Homo sapiens: one gene and its partner. The protein of the gene in region 2 purifies or fractionates together with the protein of the main gene of each other region. This does not show direct contact. Each region holds a gene or a part of one and is shown on either strand. Other genes may lie near its edges.

Region 1 (3,500 bases), on a different chromosome or scaffold from region 2:
GGATCCCCTGCCTCTGTGGTATGTCTGGACTGCCCTGGGCAGGCAGGGCCTGGCTCTGAGATGAAGATTTCTCAGCACTGAAGGACCGCCTGCCTTTGAGCTGTGAAACTAGTCTATCCTCACATAGACACCAGTAAACTGAGGCTTGAGAGGCTCAAGGACACCCCGGAGGCCACGAAGGGTAGAACTCACTCCCCTGCTTCCATCCCTGTCTTGCATTCACTGCTGTGGCTCGGAGAAGCAGAGGGGTCTTGCTTTGGAGTTGTGTGTGTGTGTGCATATGTACGTGTAAGGTGTGTACATGTGTTGCACACGTGTTCATTGCATCTGTGCATATGTGCACATGTATATGTGTGCGTGTGTGTGTATATGTGCATGCGTGGACATGTGTATGTGTTTGCATGTGTATGTGTGCACACATGCCTGTGTATGCACATGTGTGTATATGTGTGCATTTGTGCATATGTGCATGTGTGTTCATGTGTGCATGTGTATGTGCGTGTGGTGGTGATGATGGTTGAACAGTCCTGCAGCCCTGGTCCCATATGGCCTATTCCCAGCTTGGACTGGCTTCCTGGGGTGGACATGGACAGGAAAAGATGCCAGACTCATAGAGAACCCCTTCTTCCTCCACACCAGATTGGGCAGGGGGTGGGGAGGCTTTCACCTTAGCAATAGGCAATGGTTGAAATATCATTTCCAGGGTGACATGACATGATGTTTGGGATTTACTTCGAAAGAACAGGGGTGGAGCGGGAGATACAGATGAAACAAGACTGGCTCAGTTGATAATTGTTGAAGCTGGCTGTTGGGTACCAGGGGTTCCACTAAACTATTTTCTCTACTTCTGTGTATGTTTGAAATGTCCTGGAACAACAATAAAACACTTATGTCATCTCCAGTGATTCCCAAATTATTTCTTGTACAGAGGTGCTCTGCCACAAAAATGAAATAGTGACAATATCCAATATGAATATAAATATAAAATGCATATATCTATGTGTATGTATATGTATGTATATGCATTCATTGGCATATTCCAAGAAATCCTGCACAGAGCACCCCAGCTTTCCAATGCACCCTTCCTGCTCCCCAACCTGGTCCTGCCCCTTTGTGGGGCACCAAGGCCTCATGATGTCCCCAGAGAATCACAGGGTGCTATGACAGCTTTTCATACTCTGGGTTTCCACTCTGGCTGCTGTTCTTGAGCCACAGATGGAACCAATGGACAGCCCAAGGGTGCTCCCACCAGGTGACAACTCTGTCCATTCTCATCGCCCCAACCACAGGGAACCAGACTCATATTCCAGACACTCTCTCTCCCTTTCCTCCTCTGATGTCACTGTCACCATCTCCTCTCCAGTTAAAATTGGCTACAAGGCTGTACCTGGTCCCTGTGGACAGCTTCCTGATGAGCAAAGCATTCTTCATACTGCCTGGGAAGCCCCTGGGTCACCCTAGCTTGCCACGTTGTAGAGCTTGGGAAGCCTCTCAGCCTCTTAGATGATGTGGTCACTGGTGCTTTGGGCTCTGATGCTTACTGTTGGCCCCCAGCAAGTCACTTCCTGTTTCAGGGACTCCCTTTCCTCATCTGTCAAGTGGATTAGTATCTTACAGACGAAAAGCTAGTGGCCAGTGAGCACCAGGGACCATAATAGGGTTCGGTGCAACACATGCATTAACAGCCCCAAACTGGAAACAACTCAATGCCCACAACATGAGAATGGCTAACTTGACTCTGGAATGGTCACACCCGGGATTCTGTATAGCAATGAACATGAACAGGCTCACCATCCTCAACCACATGAATGAATCTGTTACTGGTTGAATCATGTGCGCTCCCAATTCATATGTTAAAGTCCTAACCCTCGGTCCTGAGAATGTGGCTATATGTGGAGACAGAGCCTTTAAAGGGGTGATTAAGTTAAAATGAGGTCATATGGGTGGGCCCTAATCCAAATTGACAGGTGTCCTTACAAGAAGAGATTAGGACACAGACATGCATGGAGGGACGGCCACGTGAGGACACAGAGAAGACGGCCATCGGCAAGCCAAGGAGAGAGCTCCCGGGAGGAGCCAACGCTGCTGACACTTTGGTCGTGGACTTCCAGCCTCCAGAGCTGTGAGATAATAAGCTTCTGTGGTGGAAGCCACCCAGTCTGTGCCACTTTGTTACGGCAGCCCAGGAAACTAACATAGAATCCCACAAACACTGCTGAGTGACAGAAGCAAGACACACAGAAACAAAAACAGTGATTCTATCTACATCAAGCTGAAAAAACAGACAAGACATGGTGGCGAAACCACAGAGAAGAGCAAGGAAGGATTTCCATCCAAGTCAGGACAGCAGGTAGCTCTTGAGGGTGGGGGTTGAATCAGGAAGGAGCCCAAGTGGGGGAGTGAGGGGGCTCCTGGTGGTCTGGGATGCTCTTTCTCTTGGCTGTCATTACACAGGGATTTGTTTATTATTACCCTATATGATTTAGAATTACACATTCATACTTCATGCAAGCTTTATATGTGTTTTATATTTTACACCAAAAAAATTAAGAAGGAAAGAAAGCCAAATGACAGAGAAAGAGAGAAAACCCCTGAGGGTGATGGCAGCTGTTTTGCTCAGTCAGTGGATTTGAACTCATGAGTGTCTAGACTGGCATGGGCTCCCCTCAATTACCACCCTCTTCTCTTACATCACGGCACAGGCCACTTCCTAACATATGCTACCTGCAGCCTCTGGCTGAGATGATCTTGAAGGATTCTTTGAGCTCCCCCTAATCCTTGATTCCAAAGAGGCTGGTGGTTAAGGGCTCAGGGTTCCCCCTTCCCTGGCCCCCACTGGCCTCGGTGTTCCTGCTGACTGGGCAGCAGGGCCAGTCTGGCGTGGGACCACCCCTGTCCACCCGGCTTCCTGTGCCCAGGTGGTTTCCAGCCGGGACAGGGAGGACTGTGTGGACAGCCCCCATGTCAACTCCCGGGCAGGGCCTGAATTGGGAGGGACACAAGCCCGGAAGCTGCTGGTTCTCCTGGCAGTCACCCCTTCCCCTCTCACTCCAGGGCCAGGCCTCTGGAGGCGCCTTCCCGGGAGGAGCAGGGCAAGGAAGGCAGGCAAAGCCACCAAGCCTACCTTTGTTGGTTTCACTCTCTCTGATAAGAAAGGAGCCGGCCTTGTTGATTGGAGCAAGAAGCTGCCTCTCAGCCTCCTTCCGACCCTGTGATCTAAAGAACCACCTGGAAAACGGCAGGAACAGGTGAAACTCAGAGCGACCCTGCTCCTCGGAGTATTCCCACACAGCCTCCCTCCTGCACTGCCTGTCCCCAAGAAATAAAAATCTAGCATTTCTGGTCCCAGTCGGCCCTGAGCTGCTGCTCCTCACACCGTGATGGAGTCAGTGCCCTCTGCCCCGCTGCCCTTCCAGTTCCGCTTCCTGTCAGCCCTGGACTCACTGTTTTCCTAGAACGAAACAAGAACACTAGTTGGTTGACCTTTGTTAATTTTGCTT
Region 2 (5,681 bases):
CTGTAATCCCAACACTTTGGAAGGCCAAGGCGGGAGGATTGCTTCAGCCCAGGAGTCTGAGATCAGCCTGGGCAGCATAGTGAGACCTTGTCTTTACAAAAAATAAAAAAAATTGTATTTGCACAGGGCATGGTGGCATGTGCCTATAGTCCCAGCTTCCCAGGATGTTCCCCAGGTGGGAAATCACTTATGTGATCATGCCATCACACTCCAGTCTGGGCAAGACAGCAAAACCCTGTCTCCAAAAAAAAAAGTTTTTTTTATCTTAGAGGAATGAATTATTCAACATTTATTAACTGCAGATTCCTAGCTAAAGGCATTTCAAAATCTAAACTTAGTGCCTTGCTACTGCAGACAGATTCTCTGGGGTCTGTTTAGGATCACCTTCTGAGTCCTCCAACATGTAGTTTTTTAGATTTAAAGTAAGAAATTTGTTAATGACTAAATCTTGCTTGTATCCATTAAAATCATTACGTATTTTCTATTAAGAATTTTGGGCCGGGCACAGGCGCTCACTCCTGTAATCCCAGCACTTTGGGAGGCCAAGGCAGGCAGGTAACTTGAGGTCAGGAGTTCGAGACCAGCCTGGCCAACATGGCAAAATCCCATTTCTACTGAAAATACAAAAATTAGCCAGTCGTGGTGGCTTGTGCTTATAATCCCAGCTACTCGGGAGGCTGAGGCAAGAGAATCACTTGAACCTGGGAGGTGGAGGTTGCAGTGAGCCGAGACTGTACCACTGCACTCCAGCCTGGGCGACAGAGCGAGACTCTGTCTCCAAAAAAAAAAAAAAAATTTTGAATCTGTGTGAGATCATTCTCAGTAAGTTCTCCCATATTCATTACATTCAAACAATTTCTTACCTCTCACCAGTATATGAAACGATGTAAACTAGTAGCTAGCTTAATTAGATACGAATATATTTATATGGAGGGCCAATATGAAAACTCTCAGTTATACAACGAGGTGTGAGCTCAAGCTAGTATTATTTTCAGATTCACTCCTTGTATGTTCTCTTCAGTCAAAAAGGATTTTCTTGTGGCAGCTGCTATATGCCTCAACTGTCAATCCGTGACTCCTTCTTTAAGTCATCATCCTATTCCAGAGCTCCTAACCTAGAAAGGGTAAACCTATATAAGGATCACACAGACAGCGCTGAAGACTAAAGCCTGTGTCTCTTCATGTGTCTCCTTTTGAGTACCTCAAGAAATCATCTGAGAATTTTCCCATTCTCCCTCTGCTTTTTGGGCTAATTTTATAGAAATGCCGTTTTGGCGCCTTAAATCCTTGACTTTAACTCGGCATCCCAATCATGACAGATGCCTTTTGAAACGTATTTCTTCAAGTACAATTCTTCTTGCTACAACTAGATTACATGTAGCTTTTAAACGAAATGCCACACGGAGATCAGACTCCTATGAGCCTCATTGTCTCTGTGCAGCCCTTTGCCCCGGCTGTCTGCACTCCTCCTGGTTGAAGTATATGGAGTAAGGTCTTGGAGTGTCGTTGAAATCTGGTAAGCGGACATCATGTGTCCAGTGACTATCTTCTCTTTTTGTTCTCTTATCTCTGTTCTACAGAACGTAGATATCATCCCTCTTCAAACATTTCACTCAGATCTTTCACCAGGGTCACCATTTTCTCACTGGTTTCTAGATTATTGACTTTACCAAGTCCTGAATTCCTTTAACACAATGGTCAACTAATGCTCCAACACAAGCAACTCCAAAATTTATACCTTGTGTCTGGCCTCTCTACTGCAAGCAGAGCCTGTGCAATCTGTTCAAGGTCCCCTAATGGAGTCCTCAAACTACCAAATTCCTGCAAGACATCTCAGGGTCAAGTCTGACTTCTCTTTGGATGGTTTTCTTTTCTTTAGGGTCACCACAAATTTATGACCCTGTTTTGGCCATGATTAGACTAAAAAGTTGGCCACTTCCTCGTTACAGCATTTATTCAACTTATTTTATCTCCATTCTAGGGCTTAAAGCTTTCTCTCCAAAATGAAGAAAATGATCAGTTTTCATGCATACTGATGATGATCAGTGAGGCATGCATATACTTTAGAATCAAGAGCAGCACAAATAGGTAAAACTTAGGAGTTCTCAACAGCCTAAGTCAAAATTCTGCTCTTTAGTAACCTACAAAGTTTAGAATCAACCTAGTAAGAACAAGAGGATACCAAGAATATTAGCAAAGAAAAGACATAATAAGAAGGACCATCCTTCTGGGACTCAAGTAGAAAGCTAAGGTACATTCTTATTTTTTTCGTACTCATCTTGAACTAAGGTAGCCACACAATTTTTTTTTTTTTTTTAATCTCCAGTGCTTTCCCATGGCCAAAGTTAAAATTTCCTTTGCATGCCACCAGGCCTTCACAACTGGTCCAAACTTACCTACCTAGCAACATCCCTTATCAGTTTCCCCTCTTTTACCCATAGCAAACATTCAGACAGCAATTTCTGGAATTTGGTGTGTTATTCCAACACAATGTTCCTTTTCATACCTATGTCTTCAAATGTCTATTTCTCTCTAATTTGAACCTCATGAGTCCTATTAATCCTTTAGAATGTAAACATTACTGCCCCAGACAGTTGGATCGTTCTTATTACACTTGGTACCTATTTATTATAGCACTTATCACATTGTAATCATCAGTTTTTTTCTTTTCTTAGAATGAGAAGTTCTGGAAAGTAGGTAGGGTAACTCCAAGGCCTAGTACAGTGCCTGGCATTCAGTAAACATTATTTCAAAAACGAGTGAACTTTTGTGAAGGTTTTTCCTTGCAATATGCATCTCTCCACTACATAGGTCTCCATCTCACCAGCAAGGCTGGATGGGTGGCGATGTCATAAAAACTTCAGTTTGGCAGAAGTGACTGCTTGAATTCATAGTTTATGAAAATATGCTACTGTGGCTAACATAGCTTAAACCTTAAAACAGTTTAATATCTTACCTTTCAATAAGGTAGTACTTTTTCTTTCAGCAATTTTGTGGATCTTAAGGTCCCAGGGTCTGGAGATTCCAACTTCTTTCCAAAACCAAAACCTTTATACTTGTTTCTTCCTCCTGTCTGTCCTGAGCCTTGACAAGCAGGGCAATAAGCTCCTTGTTTCTAATCTCTACAGGAATAACTGTGGTGCTTCTGCTGGTGTCCATTCCACTCCCAATCCTCTTGGGCATATGCAGGAGGACTGGAACATAACCAATATCTAGATCAAAAGTGAACAAGAGGAAACCCACAAGCAAAGAAAGTACTGAATCCTTCCTTCTCTTAAAGGGTCATCCCCCCTCCCCAGAGGCAAAAATATATTATGTTCCTGCCCTTGAAGGAAATCATGAATTGTTTGATCTCAGTACATAAATTGTAATAATTTGATATTGCAGCTAGTTTTACATTTATTTTTTATTTATTTATTTATTTATTTATTTATTTATTTATTTATTGATAATTCTTGGGTGTTTCTCACAGAGGGGGATTTGGCAGGGTCATGGGACAATAGTGGAGGGAAGGTCAGCAGATAAACAAGTGAACAAAGGTCTCTGGTTTTCCTAGGCAGAGGACCCTGCGGCCTTCCGCAGTGTTTGTGTCCCTGGTTACTTGAGATTAGGGATTGGTGATGACTCTTAACGAGCATGCTGCCTTCAAGCATCTGTTTAACAAAGCACATCTTGCACCGCCCTTAATCCATTTAACTCTGAGTGGACACAGCACATGTTTCAGAGAGCACAGGGTTGGGGGTAAGGTCACAGATCAACAGGATCCCAAGGCAGAGGAATTTTTCTTAGTGCAGAACAAAATGAAAAGTCTCCCATGTCTACTTCCTTCCACACAGACACGGCAACCATCCGATCTCTCAATCTTTTCCCCACCTTTCCCGCCTTTCTATTCCACAAAGCCGCCATTGTCATCCTGGCCCGTTCTCAATGAGCTATTGGGCACACCTCCCAGACGGGGTGGTGGCCGGGCAGAGGGGCTCCTCACTTCCCAGTAGGGGCGGCCGGGCAGAGGCGCCCCTCACCTCCCGGACGGGGCGGCTGGCCGGGCAGGGGGGCTGACCCCCCCCACCTCCCTCCCGGACGGGGCGGCTGGCCGGGCGGGGGGCTGAACCCCCCACCTCCCTCCCGGACGGGGCGGCTGGCTGGGCAGAGGGGCTCCTCACTTCCCAGTAGGGGCGGCCGGGCAGAGGCGCCCCTCACCTCCCGGACGGGGCGGCTGGCCGGGCGGGGGGGCTGACCCCCCCCACCTCCCTCCCGGACGGGGCGGCTGGCCGGGCAGAGGGGCTCCTCACTTCCCAGTAGGGGCGGCCGGGCAGAGGCGCCCCTCACCTCCCGGACGGGGTGGCTGGCCGGGCAGGGGGGCTGACCCCCCCCCCACCTCCCTCCCGGACGGGGCGGCTGGCCGGGCGGGGGGCTGACCCCCCCACCTCCCTCCCGGACGGGGCGGCTGGCCGGGCGGGGGGCCGACCCCCCCACCTCCCTCCCGGATGGGGCGGCTGGCCGGGCGGGGTCCGACCCCCCCACCTCCCTCCCGGACCGGGCGGCTGGCCGGGCAGAGGGGCTCCTCACTTCCCAGTAGGGGCGGCCGGGCAGAGGCACCCCTCACCTCCCAGACGGGGCGGCTGGCCGGGCGGAGGGCTGACCCCCCCACCTCCCTCCCAGACAGGGCGGCTGGCCGGGCGGGGGGCTGACCCCCCCACCTCCCTCCCGGATGGGGCGGCTGGCCGGGCAGAGGGGCTCCTCACTTCCCAGTAGGGGCGGCCGGGCAGAGGCGCCCCTCACCTCCCAGACGGGGCGGCTGGCCGGGGGGAGGGCTGACCCCCCCACCTCCCTCCCGGACGGGGCGGCTGGCCAGGCGGGGGGCTGACCCCCCCACCTCCCTCCCGGATGGGGCGGCTGGCCGGGTGGGGGGGCTGACCCCCCCATCTCCCTCCCGGACGGGGTGGCTGGCCAGGCTGAGGGGCTCCTCACTTCCCAGTAGGGGCGGCCGGGCAGAGGCGCCCCTCACCTCCCGGACGGGGCGGCTGGCCGGGCGCGGGGCTGACCCCCCCACCTCCCTCCCGGACGGCACGGCTGGCCAGGCGGGGGGCTGACCCCCCCACCTCCCTCCCGGACGGCACGGCTGGCCGGACGGCACGGCTGGCCGGGCGGGGGGGCTGACCCCCCACCTCCCTCCCGGATGGGGCGGCTGGCCGGGCGGGGGGCTGGCCCCCCCCACCTCCCTCCCGGACGGGGTGGCTGCCGGGCGGAGACGCTCCTCACTTCCCAGATGGGGTGGCTGCTGGGCGGAGAGGCTCCTCACTTCTCAGACGGGGCAGCTGCCGGGCGGAGGGGCTCCTCACTTCTCAGACGGGGTGGTTGCCAGGCAGAGGGTCTCCTCACTTCTCAGACGGGGCGGCCGGGCAGAGACGCTCCTCACCTCCCAGACGGGGTCTCGGCCGGGCAGAGGCGCTCCTCACATCCCAGATGGGGCGGCGGGGCAGAGGCGCTCCCCACATCTCAGACGATGGGCGGCCGGGCAGAGACGCTCCTCACTTCCTAGATGTGATGGCGGCTGGGAAGAGGCGCTCCTCACTTCCTAGATGGGATGGCGGCCGGGCGGAGACGCTCCTCACTTTCCAGACTGGGCAGCCGGGCAGAGGGGCTCCTCACATCCCAGACGATGGGCGGCCAGGCAGAGA

Evidence for each region. The genes of interacting proteins can lie anywhere in the genome.
Region 1: the proteins of DNAJC25 (region 2) and BLK purify together in Homo sapiens (affinity purification with mass spectrometry, with the first as the bait; one large-scale study listed by BioGRID). This does not show direct contact.

The regions. Positions count from the first base shown.
Region 1 is NC_000008.11:11,549,887-11,553,386, reverse strand, and holds part of BLK (tyrosine-protein kinase Blk), read right to left. Parts: intron 3,229-3,500; coding exon 3,125-3,228; intron 902-3,124; exon of another isoform or gene 1-901. UniProt on the Homo sapiens protein: Non-receptor tyrosine kinase involved in B-lymphocyte development, differentiation and signaling. B-cell receptor (BCR) signaling requires a tight regulation of several protein tyrosine kinases and phosphatases, and associated coreceptors.
Region 2 is NC_000009.12:111,640,370-111,646,050, reverse strand, and holds part of DNAJC25 (dnaJ homolog subfamily C member 25 precursor), read right to left. Parts: intron 3,195-5,681; exon of another isoform or gene 2,957-3,194; intron 1-2,956.